2 separate regions of the Homo sapiens genome follow, and region 2 is linked to region 1. The links come from fine-mapping of genetic effects on gene expression. Tissue or cell type: whole blood. Region 1 holds a variant in brackets; the other region holds the start of a gene. Each region is shown on its reference strand, or each on the opposite one.

What was found.
Region 2: TULP3 starts here. The variant in region 1 is fine-mapped to the expression of TULP3 in whole blood (TOPMed, PIP above 0.99).

What each region holds. Positions count from the first base shown.
Region 1 is chr6:43,831,200-43,839,341 of GRCh38, reverse strand. The region is part of intron 1 of LOC105375070 (a long non-coding RNA gene); the gene reads right to left. It overlaps LOC105375069 (a long non-coding RNA gene), which reads left to right and starts at 543. Exons shown (of 3, transcript XR_001744130.1): 1 at 543-688; 2 at 930-1,458; 3 at 2,331-2,410. The variant C/T (reference allele first, on the strand shown) is at 4,171.
Region 2 is chr12:2,886,306-2,894,447 of GRCh38, reverse strand. TULP3 (TUB like protein 3) reads right to left here and starts at 3,557. Exons shown (of 11, transcript NM_003324.5): 1 at 3,460-3,557. The coding sequence starts at 3,500. RHNO1 (RAD9-HUS1-RAD1 interacting nuclear orphan 1) reads right to left here. Exons shown (of 3, transcript NM_001252499.3): 3 at 4,924-6,537. The coding sequence ends at 5,989. LOC124902860 (a long non-coding RNA gene) reads right to left here. Exons shown (of 2, transcript XR_007063160.1): 2 at 8,122-8,142. RefSeq lists a silencer at 3,662-3,711 and an enhancer at 3,982-4,161.

The DNA of each region.
Region 1 (8,142 bases):
GGGGACAGGTCCCCTGCCATCATTAAAGGCATTGCCTCCCCTGAGCACTAGCAGCCACTCAATCCCAGTGCCAGTCACTTGCCCCGTTCCCAGCACAGCCCCTGGGGCCCTGCTGTCCTAAAATCATCTGCTCTGGCTTTTCTGGCGCTTTGCAGGGTTCATCAGGTCTGTTCCACTCGTGTGTTTTTCCTTCCTGCTCCCGCCCTCATCAGGGATCTCTGGGGTTCCCTGAGGGCAGGGCTATGTCTCCCCCTCAGACTGGGGCTCCTCAAGTCAGGAACCTTAGAGAACAAGCGACTGGGCACTGTCCCCTCCTCCCACCCTCCCTTTTGGTTCCAAGGCCAGGTGTTTGAGCAGGCCGTCATTTCACACATCCCAAGTCTGGGCACATGCACCGCCCAAAGCCCCTTGCCTCCCTGAAGGGGAGGCTGAAGGCCAGCCGCTGACACCAGTGGACCCACGGCGGGATCATTGCATAACAGCAGCCTGGCCACAGGATGATTCAGCACTGAGGCCTGCACAGCACTCTGACTTCTGTGGAAGACTCAGGACAGGGCTCCTCAGAATCAACAGACACGAGACCCAAGGATTCCACCTCACCTGGGGACGCGATGTTGCAGCCCTGGCATATTTGGGCCTCTTCTGGCTGCCCTGGGCCTGGCCTCTCTGTGTCTGGACCTGAGTGCAGGTACCTGGCCTGGGTTCCAGCCTGGGCAGGGCCAAGAGAGTCACCCTGCCACCAAAAGCCCACTGTCAGGACTTAGACTGCCCTCAAGCAGGGTTGTGGCCCAGCAGGAAAGTGACCTGGGGCCAGGGAAGGGACCCCAGGGGCAGCCTGGGGCTGGGGGGGGTCAACTTGGCAGTTCTTTTTCAGACCACTAGATGTCACTTCCATTTCAAAGGAACCCACTGGTTGGAATTTTCCCCAGTCAGGTCCCCACAGCCTTCAAGTCTTAAAGACACACAGACCACAAAAGAAAACTTCATTTTCCCCGGAGGACCAAGACACTGGAAACCTGGCCAGGAGCTGCCCCCAACCCTCAGCTGAAGCTTCCAGGGGCTCCATAACATCCCATCCCAACCCTGGAAAGAGCCAGAGGTGATGGAACTCCATCTCCCCATCCCCCACCTGTCCTACAGGTTAGTATGGGGATGGTATTTTCTGAAATGAACAAAAAAATGAAAGACGTGATGAAATGAATGTGAGTGCATTTGAGGGGGACGATGTTTGAAACAGGGGACATATATGCCAAAGATCCTCTTCAGGGCCAGGAGATTCCAGGTTCATCAAGGTCATGTTGTCCATCCCCAGGCTTCAGACTATCCTCAAAAAGTTCGGGTAAGGCAGCGCTGAAGGGAAGTTCCAGGGACCTTGCTTTCTCCACTCCAGTCCCCAATATTCAGTCAACATCTCTTGGCTGGCTGGGGCTGATTATTATAAAGTACAACCTTTGTGAGGTAAGTATAAAGATAACCCCATTTGACAAATGAAGACACAGAGGTATGGAGAGGGTTAAGTGAGAAAGTTCTCCCCAAGCCTCTTGCTGCTGTCCCATCTCAGCTCCCCACAGAAATGCGGCATGGATTCAGCTGGTTGGTTTATCTACAGCTCAGGTTGCTGCTTAAAGACTCATTCTCTTTAGTTCATTTGTACTGGCTTTTACCCAGTGGTTTTCAAACTTGGCTGCCCATTAGAATCACCTGGGGAACTTTCAAAAATTCTGATGCATGGCTGGGCACAGTGGCTCACACCTGTAATCTCAGCACTTTGGGAGGCCAAGACGGGAAGATGGCTTGAGCTCAGGAGTTTAAAACCAGCCTAGGCAATAGAGTGAGACCTTGTCTCTATTAAAAATTTAAAAATTAGCCGGGTATAGTGGCATGCACCTATAGTCCTTGGTGCTACTTGGGAGGCTAAGGTGGGAGAATTGAACCCAAGAGGTCGAGCCTGTAGTGAGCCGTGATCGTGCCACTGCACTCCAGCCTGGGGGACAGACTGAGACCTTGTCTAAAAAAACATCTGATGCCCTGGTCACCCCATATAAATTAATTCAGAATGCAGGAGGGTTGGAGTAAGTCAGGCATCAGTATGCTCTTGTAAATGTCCAGGTAATTCCAATGAGTGGCCAAGTCTGTGGACCATTATTTAACCACTCCCCCAACCTACCCTCAGCCAACACTGAGGGTTTACCTACAGGCCTGGCAGGGTGAGATTGGAAAGGCTGTGTTGCTATTAATGATTATTTAATCACATTTAATAATAGGATACCCAGAAACAAATACCTCACATACTGTAAGGCAGGAGGGCATGCATTGTTACTTTCCCGCAGAGGGAAGACTGACGTTCAAAGAAGTGAAGCAACTCACCCAGCGAATAAGTGAGTAGAACAAGGGCTAACACCCAAGTCTTCTTAGTTCTCAGACAAATGCTCCTGCCTCTTCATTATGCCTCCGAGATAAGGTGAGCTGCTTCCAGAGCAGTTAGCATCATACATAGAAAACTGTTCATTGTCAGTATCTGACCTCTAGCCCCAACCACTTATCAACAGCCAGTCATAACCACAGCTGACCCTTTATCTTGACTACAAGCTTGCTTTACCCTGGCTACCACTTGACCCCTAACCCTGGCCACTGCTGGCCCCTAATTGAGACCACAAGCTATCCCTAATGCCAGCCATGTTCAGCACTGGCCAGAATATGGAGGGCTCAGGCTACCCAGTCACCAAACCAGGGAATACCTCTGTGTCGTGTCATAATTACTAATGATAATAAGCACGTGGGGCCTGTGTGCCAGACAGGGTTTCAATATGTCTCTACGAACTATCAGGTCAGATCTAAAGGCTTCCCCAAAGTTTCTCTTTCTTGTAAGGCTCGCCCTTTCCTGCTCCGATCTCTCTCTTTCACACACACACACACACACACACCTCCTTGCTCCTGCAGTTCCCCAGGCCTGGAATGCCCTTCCTCCTCCCCACTCTCCAGGATCCCCTCAAGGCCTTCCTCCCAAGGAAGCCTACAGGGCCCCCAGGGTCCCACATAGCCCAGGCTTACGGACCCCTTCAGTAGGTGTCACCAGGCCCAAGAGAGCAAAGTCACTCAGCTTAGCATCTTCTCTCCTTTCTCACAAGGTCAGGAAGGTCAGGGCCGCCCAGCAGGGGTGACAGTCAGATGTCAGGGGACACTCACCCGCACAGGCACTCACATACGCACACATGCTCACCAAGTGTGTTTATAGAGTTCTGGGCAACTGTAAACTTGGCTCACTCCAGCTGCCCCCAGGAGAGGGAAAACCATAAACACCTCCTGCTCCCACCAGTTTCCCTCGACAAGGCGAGTCACCTCCCAGGACCTGGACACCCACCATTATAGGGAACTGGCTGTACTCATCGACTCTACTCAGTGAGCAATGCCCAGCCTCAGTCACATCCCCAACACAGGGGAAGCGCCCCAGGCCCCTGCCATAGCCCTCCTGAGTCTTTGCAACCCTGGGAATGCCTCACCCTTCTCTTCCCTCGCCACCTTCAAAGGGCCACTCTCGGTCTTACCTCTAAGACACTCCCACTGATCTCCTTACTACATACTGAGTACTTTCTGGAAGGGGCTTTAAGACAAAAAGCCTTTGGGATGAGACCTAATATTCACTCTTAGAAATCCATTCCCCTGGGTCAAGCAGTGCTCTTTCCTCTGGAAGGGTTGTCTCAATGGGTCTCTGGATCTCTATGTGACTGTGCTGCAGCAGAGGCAGCTGGTATACAGGTGGGTACCACCTGGAGCATGAATTCTGGCTCTAAGTGTGGCACCACCTGCTTGGGCGGTACACTCTCTGAATGCGCAGTGAGGAACGGACTGCAAATCTCTAGGGTCCCTCCAGCTCTAGTAGCCAGTGGTTTCTCCTTCCAATCAAGGATTTTTATTGGGAAGTCACACAATTGATCTTGCTACTTTGAAATGTTGCCGTAACTTTAAAGGAGAAGTCCTACTGAGGCAGGCCTAAAGCGTAATAAAATTAGGTTAGCTGTAGGGAGGAACTTCCAAGACCGTGCATTACAAGGCACAGAGGATTGTAAAGCAAAACCAAAGAATATCTCTTCTGGAAATCTTTTAAAATGCAAGAAAGATATTCCTCAAAGGCCGAGTCTGACTTTGCTGGATATTTGGGGCCTTTTATTA[C/T]TATTGAAAGGGGAGAGAGTGTGACCTTTCCTCAAGCCAGGAAAGGGTTGGGGGGGCCTTGATGGAGTTCCCAGTGCCAAAGGATAGAGAGCTGAATGGACCCAGGGCCTCACCCCTACCTCCTCCATTGTCCCCTGTTCCCCTTAATGAAGGCTCAGACCAGAACAACCAATGAGGCTTGGAAAATCCGCCTGTTGTGTGAGGGGATTTTCCATAAATCTCCCTCATTCAGGCAGCGACAGCCCCGTGCCCTGTGGAGGGAGGGCTGCCTGGCTGCTGGGGACCCTTGTTAAGAACAGGTGCTTTCTAGCCAGATCCCTGTTCCTCTGGGCCCCTCAGCCACCTAGGGGCTTTTGTAGGGAGGTAGTGAGGAAACCCACCCAGGCTTCCAGGAGCCATCTCCAAGGAAAATAACCTTGGGCCCCTTCAAGCCTGCAAGGGTGAGAAAATGGGCTCTGACCTACCAATGGGATTGCAGTTTAGAGGGTTGTTTTGCATAAATCTGTTCACCACCCGTTCAAGGCCTCCCTTGTGAAACATTATAGACCTCACCACGGAGTATGGGAGCCACTAGCCACATGTGGCCATTTAAATCTAAATTATCAGCTTGAACAATGTTGTGAAACCCTACCTCTACAAAAAAATTTTCTTAAATTAGCCAGGCGTAGTGGCGTGTGCCTGTAGTTCCAGCTACTCAGGAGGCTGAGGTGGGGGAATGGCTTAGGTCTGGAAAGTCGAGGCTTCAGTGAGCCGAGACTGCACCACTGCACTCCAGCCTGGGCCACAGAGTGAGACCCTGTCTCATTCATAAATAATCTAAATTAACTAAAATTGGGTTTTAAAACTACCGTAAATCAGATGCATAGTTTAAGTGCTCGGTACCCGCGTGTGGCTAGTGGCTACTGTTTTCCACAGTGCGGCTCGAGAACATTTCCACCATCACAGAATGTTCTAGCGGACAGCACTGCTTAGAGCTGACACTAAACAGAGCAGCCTTCCATTAGAGCAGAAATGCAAGCACTGACAACAGGAATAGAAGAAGTCTTGTGCTGACAATGGAGAAGGCTCCAGGGACTCAGGAAGCCCCAGTCTGAGGGGAAGGCACAACCCTGTCCTCAGGGAGCGCCCAGCCCAAAAAGGGTTAAATAATTCCTTGGTCGGATCTTGTTTTCCTGAGCAGGTGAGGGGGAAAGGGCCCAGCTGTCACTTAGCAGGCTCATTAGTGATGTCTGCTGGGGCCTTGCCCTCCCCAGGGGTAATTATTAACAGGCCTCAGGTGTGAGAGAGCATGCAGCCCAGGCCTCACCCTCCCGTTCAGCTGACTTGGCCAGCTGGGCATCCTTGGTTGGGGCGGGAGGACCCCAGAACCAAGAATCCCAACTGGAGAGACAGCCCTGGGGCTGCCTGAATAATGATACCACCAAGACCTGGCTCTGTGGCCCCCGTTCCCCAGCGCTCCCACCCTGAGTTAAGCCCTGCTCTGTGTTTGATAAGATGGACTGCCAACCAGGGGGCACAGCACTGACCAGGAAGGCTGCCCGCCACTTCCCAATTAAACTGTTCAAAACTGGGGGGCCGTCCCTGCAGCCTCACTGGGGAAAGTCTAATCTCACCAAACCTGGGCCAGGGCCCCTTGCCTTGTCAGCAGGAATTTTCCACATTTGCTGAGATTTCTGTTTGTCTTCTCCATTAGCTCAACAAGCATAGATGGAAAGATGACTAAGATAATTAGTGACTGACAGTAGCTCTGACCATGGGGCCAGGCCAGGAGTGAGTGGCAGGGGCTGGAGTGTGGCTGGAGAAGCTGTGAGTCAGCCAGAAAGTGTGAGCGCAGGGCCTGTACCAGGCCTGGAGACCTCAGACCAGACAGGAGGGAGCCCAGAGCAGACCCATCAGAGTCAGAGGCAAGGGACAGAAAGAGCAAGTGATAGCTCCTGCCTCATAACCATGGAAACGGCTCCAAACGGAGGCCGCCTCTACCAAAGAAGACTCAAGCCCCTGGGTGGGTCAGTGGGCCTGAGGAGGGAGAAAGAAGCCTATTCCACAGCTGCAGCCCAAACCTGGCCCTCAAATGGCCTATGTTCACATGGCACAACAAGCAAGCAGGGATGCCACTAGAGAGAAAGCCCAACCTTAACCTCTTGCCAGTAGGGATGGGGTAGGGGAGCTGGGTTTAGAACCTTCTTTCTAAAGCATATCCCAAGCTTACCTCAGCCATCACCCACTTCAGTAGGCTCCCAATTCTTTTGATTATATACCTCTATCCACAGAAAATCTGTGACATATGCCCCTAACATGTATATAAGATATACAATATGTGCTACCATACTAATAAATTATGTACATTATAAAGGACAAAAGAAAGAATAAAAGTGAGGTTCCAATGTCTTCCCAAATGTGGATACAGTGTGGAGACTGTTGATTTACTTAAAGAGTGCGGGTGACACATTTCTAACTAAGCTCAGTAAATGAGCAAATCTTCCTGTGTTTGCAAATTCAACATCAGCCAGTCCTCCCTGGTTAACAGTTAAGATTAGTTGCTATCTCAAAATTATTTTGAACTTGAGCTGACCCTTATGCTGGGATGGAGATGGTAGCAGAGCTGGCCATGTCAGCTGACAGCAGGCTCAGAGCACCCCCCACCCCACATGGTGACTTCGCCCATGCTGTTCCCTCTAAGTAGAATGTCCTGCTGCCACTTTTCACAGTGGCAATGATTTGCCTTCAAAACTCCACTCTTCTCCAGGATTTCTTCCCTGAATTCCAGGCTGGTCAAGTGTCCCACCCCTAAACTCCCACAGCCCACTATGAAGACAGTACTGACTTTAAACAAAATGACAGACAGCGGGTCCTCAAATAATGTCATTTCATTCAACATTGTTTTTAAGTGAGAAAAAAATTCATTTTATTATACGTAATTTCACTTAAAGTTGCAATTTCCAAGGACCTATTGATGATGTTAAGTGAGGATGTACTGTACCTCTATTCTGGAATGTACTGTGCTGCCCTGGAACAATGTGTTTAACCCTCTGCCTCCCTGACTTGATTGTACAACTCCTGAAAGGCAGGGGATTGCTTTGTTCATCTTTGTATCCTCAGCTATCAGCATATGCAGACACGGATATATCCACCCATGTCCGCTCAGCACCCACCATTCTGACACTTTGAGCCCGTTTGGATTCCCATACAGGGCAGGTCAGAAGTGCCAGGGAATTGACACCCACTTCCCTAGGATCTCTCAACCAATGGCTACATGATTTCATGGCTAATACGCTAGCTCCCTTGCCCGCTGGCTGGGTAACTTTGAGATGAGTTACCCAAAGGTCCCCAGTTGCATACAGCAGTCACCTACTCAGTAGCAGGCATTTATTTTATTGGCTTCTTTCTCTTTCCTGCCTCACTTCTCTACTCCTTTACTGGTGTTTTATGGAAATCTTCCAAATAAACTATTAATGCTCAAGTCCTTATTTCAGAGGAAACCAGCCCAAGACACTGACATGTAATAGGTGATCAATAAATTCTAATTAATGAGAATCTATTGAGCAACTTCTATCCCAGCCATTGAGGGTCGTGGGAGGAGAAAGCTCACTAGGATGGAACAGCCACAGAAGCTTCTTGAGGAGTTGGATTGAGCTGGGGCATTCAAGATGGGCAGGGTTGGAGCAGGCAGACAGGAATGCAGATGGAGTTCCCAGCAGAACGAAGGGCATAAGCAAAGGTGGGGAGGCTGGAATGAAGCCTACCTATCTGGAGGGCAATGAGGAAGCACTGAGTGACACATCATATCTCCGCCCCAAGGGTTTTCCCTTTTCCATGCCTAGTTCCCCAGGTTCCTCTTTCCCTGAGCCCTGGCAGTTGGACTTGGGGCTTGGCATCTTGGGGGAAGGGCTTCTCAGAAATTCCGTGCCCTGCCAAAGAAGCAAGCAAGCCCCTGTCCCCACCCTTCAGAGCAATCCTCATTATCTTTCTCAA
Region 2 (8,142 bases), not on the chromosome of region 1:
TTCTCCTGCCTCAGCTCCTGAGTAGCTAAGATTATAGGCACCTGCCACCATGCCTGGCTAAGTTTTGCATTTTTAGTAGAGATAGGGTTTCTCCATGTTGGTCAGGCTGGTCTTGAACTCGTGACCTCAGGTGATTTCCCCCCCCCCGCCCCGCCCCCCCGCCATCTCGGCCTCCCATGGTGCTGGGATTACAAGTGTGAGCCACCATGCCCAGCCTACTGTTTATATTTCTAAAGAGAAATCATGGTATATGGACAAACCACCGACTGGGATTTCTTAGATGACTCCAGCTCACAAGGTCACACCACAGTGGGAAGCACGCCTTCAATTCTCAATTCTCTATCACTTACAAAAGGCCAGATAGGGCTCAAGTTCCAGCACCAGCCAACCCCCGTCATCTCCAGGGAATCTATATTATAAAATGCCTAGCCTCAACAAAGGTCCTGAGTGTTGTTTCAAATTTCACCTCCAATTTTCACTAAACATTTCTGATATAAGAAAATAGGCCAAGCCTGGTCGCTCACACCTGTAATCCCAGCACTTTGGGAGGCTGAGGCAGGAGGATCACTTGAGACCAGGACTTCAAGACCATCCTGGGCAACATAGTGAGACCTTGTCTCTACAAAAAAATAAAAATTAAAAAAAATATTTGTAGTTAATAATTTCTCTATTTTGTTGAAAATAAATCTGCTTCATGATAAAAGTTACATAATTCCAAGAAAAAAAAAAAACACAGAAAACCTAAAAGTTGGTTGTTATCCTTACATTGAAAGGCAGTAATACAGAAAATTCTATCAATGTATTTCATCAAAAACATTAAACAGCCAGGCAGGGTTGGGGGGCTCACGCCTGTAATCCCAGCACTTTGGGAGGCCGAGGCGGGCGAATCCCCTGAGGTCGGGAGTTCAAGACCAGCCTGACCAACATGGAGAAACCCCCTCTCTACTAAAAATATAAAAATTAGCCGGGCACGGTGGCGCATGCCTGTAATCCCAGCTACTCAGGAGGCTGAGGCTGGAGAATCACTGGAACCCAGGAGGCAAGTAAGCCAAGATGGCGCCACTGCACTCCAGCCTGGGCGACGAGAGCGAAACTCCGTTTGGAAAAAAAAAAAAAAAAACACATTAAACACACAACCTGAAGCCCAAAAAGAGAAAAAAGCAAGAGACTCCCTCTTAGTAACAAATGAGTTAAACACTGATAGAAGTTGCACTAACATTACAGAGGGCAGGAGAAACATTTGGTGACTCACACATTCCCCTTTGATGTCAATTTTACAATTTAGGGCCAAGTGCAGTGGCTCAGGCCTGTAATCCCAGAAGTTTTGGAGGCTGAGGCAGGCAGATCACTTGAGCTCACTTCGACACCAGCCTGAGCAACATGACGAAACCCCACCTCTACAAAAAATACAAGAAATTAGCCAGGTGGTGCCACGCACCTGTGGTCCCAGCTACTAGGGATGCTGAGGTGGGAGGATCGCTTAACCTGGGGAAGAGGTTGAAATTAGTTGAGATCGCCCACCACATCCTAGCCTGGGCGACAGAGTGAGACCCTGTCTCAAAAAAAAAAAAAAATTAAAATTAAAAGAAAAGAAAATAAAATTTAAAGAGCTAGTTTCTTTCGGAAGAACAAGGAGGGGGCCAGGCGCAGTGGCTCACGCCTGTAATCCCAGCACTTTGGGAGGCCGAGGTGGGCAGATCACCAGGTCAAGAAATCGAGACCATCTTGGCCAACATGGTGAAGCCCCGTCTCTACTAAAAATACAAAAATTAGCTGGGCGTGGTGGCGCGTGCCTATAGTCCCAGCTACTCAGGAGGCTGAGGCAGGAGAATCACTTGAACCCGGGAAGCGGAGGCTGCAGTTAGCCGAGATCGCACCACTGCACTACCGCCTGGCGACAGAGAGAGACTCCGTCTCAGAAAAAAAAAAGGAAGGAAAAGCCTCTTGGTCCCAATTTCAAAGTCAATCCCGCATCCCGTTTTTTTTTCCCCAAAAAATCTGAGTCATATCAAACATCTGGTACTCATGAAATTTACTACTTTAAATTCATGGAATTAAAACTGAGCGCCCACAACTGAACAAATATTTTCGGAATTCAACCAGAGATGCTGAATACTAACTTTATCTCCTCTACCACTTACACCTGTAAATGTAGTTTTCTTCCTCGACTTGGGAAAAAAAAAAGCACAGTGAACAAATTTCAGAGTGCAGCTATCACCTCAATAGAACTTGACGAAAAAGGAAAATACATGTTCTTTACCCCCAACAACTTTGTGACAATTTTTAAAAATGGTTTAAAATTGTTTAAATATCTACTAGTGGAAATATCAAACTAAATACTTACACGTCAAATCATTTTTTTTTTAAGGTGACAGGATGTCACTGCGTTGCCCAGGCTAGCGAGCTCAGTGGCCCAACACAGGAGTTTGGAACTCCTGGGCTCAAGGAATCCTCCCTCCTCAGTCTCTCGAGTCGCTGGAACTACAGGCGCGCACCACCGTGTCCGGCCAAATTTTAATTGATTGACTGATTGATTTTATTTTATTTTATTTTTTTCTAGAGATGGGGGTCTCGCTATCTTGTCCAGGCTGGTCTCGAACTCCTGAGACCAAGCGATCCTCCTGCCTTGGCCTCCCAAAGTGCTGGGGATAATAGACGTGTTCCAAGGCGCCTGGCCCCAAATCTTTGTCTTGGTAATGGAATAAAAAGCGGGGTATACAGTTGGCGTGTAGGGCTTAAATCCTCAGATGACGCCAAAGTTTCTAACCAATGATTTCAAACGGCTTCCCATTAACTTCTCATTAACCTAGCGAACAAGAAAGTGACACGCTGAGATTTTGGATCCTTTTTTTTCCGAGGCTCTCCCTCTGGCAGAGAAAGAGGCGCACAAACAAGGGGTGTGGCCCACTGGCAAATCAGTCAGACCATCCCGAATCAGGGACAAACACTGGAAAGCAGAGAGGAAAAAGAAGTTTCGCGTTTCCGCTCCTCGGACTCTGCTCCAGAATTCAGCTTTACCCGTCCGAAGCAGCGGCGTCAGAACAAGCTACTAAACATCACCCGCACCGCCTCCCGGGAGGGGCTGGGTCCCCTCTCGGCTGTGACACCGCCGGGCAGTGGGAGCTGAGCGGGGCCAGCGCCTCTCCCCCGAGGGAAACCCGAGGCCCAGAGGGGCCGAGGGAGCCCGTCACGAAAACTCCAGAAGTTCCTAAGCAGGGACCTGAACCAAAGGTCTCTGCCCACGGCGCGGGATGTAGTGCCGCCGCTCCACTTGAGAAAGGGGTCCCCACACGGGAGTAGGGCGAGGGGGTCGCCTCCCGCCGCCGAAACCAGTCCCTCCCTGAGTCGCCAAGTCCCGAGTCCCGCCCTCTCCCCGCAGGGCTCCCGGAGAGGACCTCCGCCTTCTCGCTTCGCCCCTCCGCCTCGCTCAGGAGGAGACCTGCCACGGCCCTGTCTGACCTGTCGCCGCTGGGACTGAGCCGGCAGCGCGAAGCCTCCATGCCCGCCACCGAGGAAGCCCCCACCACGTACACACTCTTCCCCGCCGTCGCTAGAGTGGCTAGGCTGGCACGCCGCCGCGTCCCGCCTCCTGGCAACCGCGTTCCACACTGTCGCCGCCGCCGATTGGTCCGTGTTCTCGTGGCTCCTGTCTCATTGGCTATTGCCGGGGCCCAACGATGCGGGAGGGTTGCTAAGGGGCGGGAGGCGAGCGGGAGTTAAACGCGCCTGCGCGGGGGTGGGGTGACGCGAGCTAAGGCTTGGTCCTCTGGAGCGCCTCGCGGGGCCGGTACTGAGCGGGAAGACTTTGTTTTTGCCTGGGCCTCGCCCGCCGCGCGGCCAGCAGGCGAGTCCGGTCAGAGGAGTCTCCTATACCGCACCAACCGCCACGCACGCAACGGCTCCTCGCACCCCCGCCATTTTTACCGAGCCCACCCAGAGCGCTTCCCGAGGTCTGCCCTGTGAGGATGTACAGACCTCTGCCGCTTCCCATTCTGGCCCCTGCCCTGATACCAGCGGCCTTCGTGGACCCCCTCTGGTACCCTCTCCACTCCATCAGTCACTCCCAGTGAAACGCATCTTCCATAGGCTGGCCTTGAACTTCAACTGCACAGAACTTAAGCTTCCCCTACTCCAGCCCAAGCTTTTAGGTCATTCCTAGACCTGCTCTACAGACTCCCCTAAAGCACACGAGGGAATCCAGAGACTTTAATTTTTTGAGACAGGGTTTCTCTCTCGCCCAGACTGCAGTGCAGTGGCCCGGTCTCAGCTCACCGCAACCTCCGCCTCCCAGGCTCAAGCGATTCTCCTGCCTCAGCCTGTGGAGTAGCTGGGATTACAGGCAGGGGCCACTACTGCCTGGCTATTTTTCGTATTTTTAGTAGAGATAGGGTTTCACCATGTTGGCCAGACTGGCCTCTTAACTCCCGACCTCAAATGATCCACCCGCCTCAGCCTCCGAAAGTGCTGGGATTACAGGCGTGGGCCCGTCCTGGAGACTCTTTCCATCTACCTTTCTACCTCCTGTGGGCCTTCCTCAAACATCCATAGCCCACCGTGAGAGCCCCTGTCTAAATGTGTACTCTTGTCTCCAATAAATCCCGTCCCCAAATGTCAGTCCCTTTCTCCCTACCGACATGCACATTATAGTCCCTACAAAACATCCTGAGTCCTGACAAGTCACTGCACAAATGGCTTTATGGCGTTCTAAGGTCAAAGTTGTTTCCACATTGGTTTTGAACCTACAAGTTAGTACTTTAGGAGGCACACGCTGAGAGTGGACCGTTACACTGCCTGGGTCAGCGTGCACTCACTGTGTGACCTGTGCATGGTTCATTCTCTGCATCAAACTCCCATCTGTAAAATATACAGTAATCCCTGCTTGATCTAGTTGGGGCTGGACCTGACACAGTAGGTCCAGCTGAATGAATGCTAAATGAATGGGTTTAATGAGATGCTACTTGTCTGAGTAAAAGGCCGAGACATTCGGTTGACTGGGGAAGTCCTTCTGCATTAATTACAATAAGTAATACTCATTGAAAACTTTCCTTATTTACACACAGTTGAACAGTTATTCTAAGAAACCATTTTCCCACCCTATTTAATATTGACAGATTTCTTCAGTTAGAAACAAAAACTCAAAACACACGCAATCCTAAAGAACTCATCTATGTCCCCCTTATCTCCCCTCATCTTATGTAGTCCCTAAAACAGGGCTTGCTGCCCTTTCTTCTTCTTGCCTTTTCAGCAGATGAGTCAAGGTTGCAGAGGTGGCAGTCAACCATAGAGTCACAGAGTTTGATTTTTTTCCATCCATCAGGTCGTAGAAGCTGCCACTGAGCCTGACAAGAGTTGGTACTCAAAAATGCAGAATGAATTAGTTTGAATGAGGTGATTAAGGATTAATGAGTAGTGGTTAAGGAAACAAAGACCATTAGTGGATGGGGTAATATTGCTGTATTACTGATGGAAGCAGGATTCTCTAAAAAAACTTTCTGCAGCCATTTACTTACATACATTTTAAAGAGTTACTACAAGATATTTTAAAAATTTAAACAGTTAATACAAGAAAAATATGAAGTGAATAGTTCATGACACTAAACTGAACTGTTCATGACACAAAGTATCTTAGAAAACAAATCTCGGCTGGGCCAGCACTTTGTGAGGTCAAGGCCAGCAGATGACTTGAGGTCAGGATTTTGAGACCAGCCTGGCCAACATGGAGAAACCACATCTCTACTAAAAATACAAAAAAATTAGCCAGGCATGGTGGCTGGTGCCTGTAATCCCAGCTACTGGGGAGGCTGAGGCAGGAGAATCGCTTGAACCCAGGAAGTGGTGGTTGCAGTAAGGTGAGATCATACCACTGCACTCCAGCCTGGGCAACAGAGCAATATTACATCTCAAAAACAAAAACAAAAACCCTAGGAATTGAATTCCTTTATGACTCCAGAAAACATATCTCTTTTCTATTGAGATTACTGATGGCAGTCAGCTTTTCACAAGGAATTGGCTTCTGCTCAGCTTCCCTCTCTCCCTGAGGTAAGCAAGCAGGTGCTGTCGTCTCCTCCATGTGACCTTTATTCCATACTTGTCCTCGGGGGTGTCTTTAACCAGAACAGGTCCAGGCTCTGGGCTATTAGGAGTGCCAGTGTGAAGAGTGCAGCTTAGAAGGCTGTTTTCCTTCTGATCTTGGGGAATGAGTTCTTCCTTCACAGACGATGACTCTGGGGTCTGGATATCAGGTGGAATGAACACATAAGGTAAGCTCTGAAGTGCCTGCACTGACATGTTCCCACAGCTTTGGGGACTGAGCACTGGAACTAAGGGTCTTCTGGAAACATCCTTTTCTGATTCACTGGGGCACTCTCGGATTAAGGGGATCCCCAATGTCTCTGAACTGGAAGATTGCGGACTCTCAAAAGTTAGATGTGGAAACTTGGAGGTGGTAGGTTTTCGACTTGAGTGTCTCGCCCGGTTTTGGTGTTTCTGGTAGGCTGGGAACAAGCTTCCTGCTGCTGTATCAAAATCAGGTGATACCTTAAAAAAAAAAAAAAAGTGAGGTGAGCCTAACTAAGTACTAACCTAAGAGAGGAAACTGTATCTGATGACCAGACTCTTAAATCGGGGTCTACTGTAGTAATGAACACAAAACTAAAATAACTGTCTAATGGCATAATAACAGGAAGCTTTGGGCAAATTATTCCATCTCTCCGGCCTTCAGCTTCCTCATGTGTAGGAAAGGGGACGATGTCTCTTTCACTTCATCACACCATATGGATATAACTTTTTTTCTTCCCCCTGGGATGGAGTCTCACTCCGACGTCTAGGCTGGAATGCAGCGGCACCATCTCGGCTCATTGCAACCTCTGTCTCCCAGTTCAAGTGATTCTCCTGCTTCAGCTTCCCGAGTAGCTGGGACTACAGGCGCCTGCCACCACGCCCAGGTATTTTTTTTTTTTTTTTTTTTTTGGAGACAGAGTTTTGCTCTTGTCGCCCAGGCTGGAGTGCAATGGCAGGTCTCTGCTCACTGCAACCTCCGACTCCCTGATGCAAGCGATTCTGCTGCCTAAGCTTCCCGTGTAGCTGGGAATATAGGTGCGCACCACCACGACCAGTTAATTTTTGTATTTTTAGTAGAGACAGGATTTTACCATGTTGACCAGGCTGACCTTGAACTCTTGACCTCAGGTGATCCACCCACCCCGGCCTTCCAAAGTGCTGGGATTACAGGCATGAGTCACGGCACCCAGCCAATTTTTATATTTTTAATAGAGTCAGAGTTTCACCGTGTTGGCCAGACTGGTCTCAAACTCCTGACCTCAAGTGATCCACCCACCTCAGCCTCCCAAAGTGCTGGGATTACAGGCGTAAGCCACAACACCTGGTCTAGATATAACTTATTTATCTTTAAACTTCATGAGGGTAGGGACCAGTGGTCTTGTTCTTGATTCCCAGCACCTAGCAGAATGCCTGGAACAAAGAAGGCCCTCAGTTAATGAATAGCCAACTCCAAGCATAGCGGGTGAGAACTAGCAGAGGACCTGGCATATAATGAATATTCAATAAATGTTCATTCCTACTCTCATCCACAGGATTCTGATGTTTAGGTTTCTTCCACAATCCTGTAGCAGGTATTATGGTTCTTCCAAGCAGTCCTGAATAAGTTACATTTATTAAATACTCCTAAGCCAAGCTTATGCTTTTGTCTGGCCCTTTTACTATACTACTTTCCTGTTGTATAGTAGCTATATTCTCTTCCCAGGGTTTCTATTTTTTTTTTTTTTTTTTTTTTGAGACAGGGTCTCACACTGTTGCCCAGGCTGGAGTGCAGTAGCACAATCTTGGCTCACTACAGCCTTGACCTCCCGGTTCAAGAGATCTGCCCACCTTAGCCTCCCAAGTAGCTGGGACTACAGGTGCGCACCACCATGCCCAGCTAATTTTTCTATTAATATTTTTAGTAAAGATGGGGTTTCACCATGTTGCCCAGGCTGGTCTCGAACTCCTGGGCTCAAGCAATCCTCCTTCCTTGGCCTCCCAAAGTTCTAGGATTACAAACATGAGCCACCACACCCGGCCTCTCTTCCCAGGGCTTTTAAGCGGTCAAAATATGACATATGCTATTCTTATGGGGTTTTATTT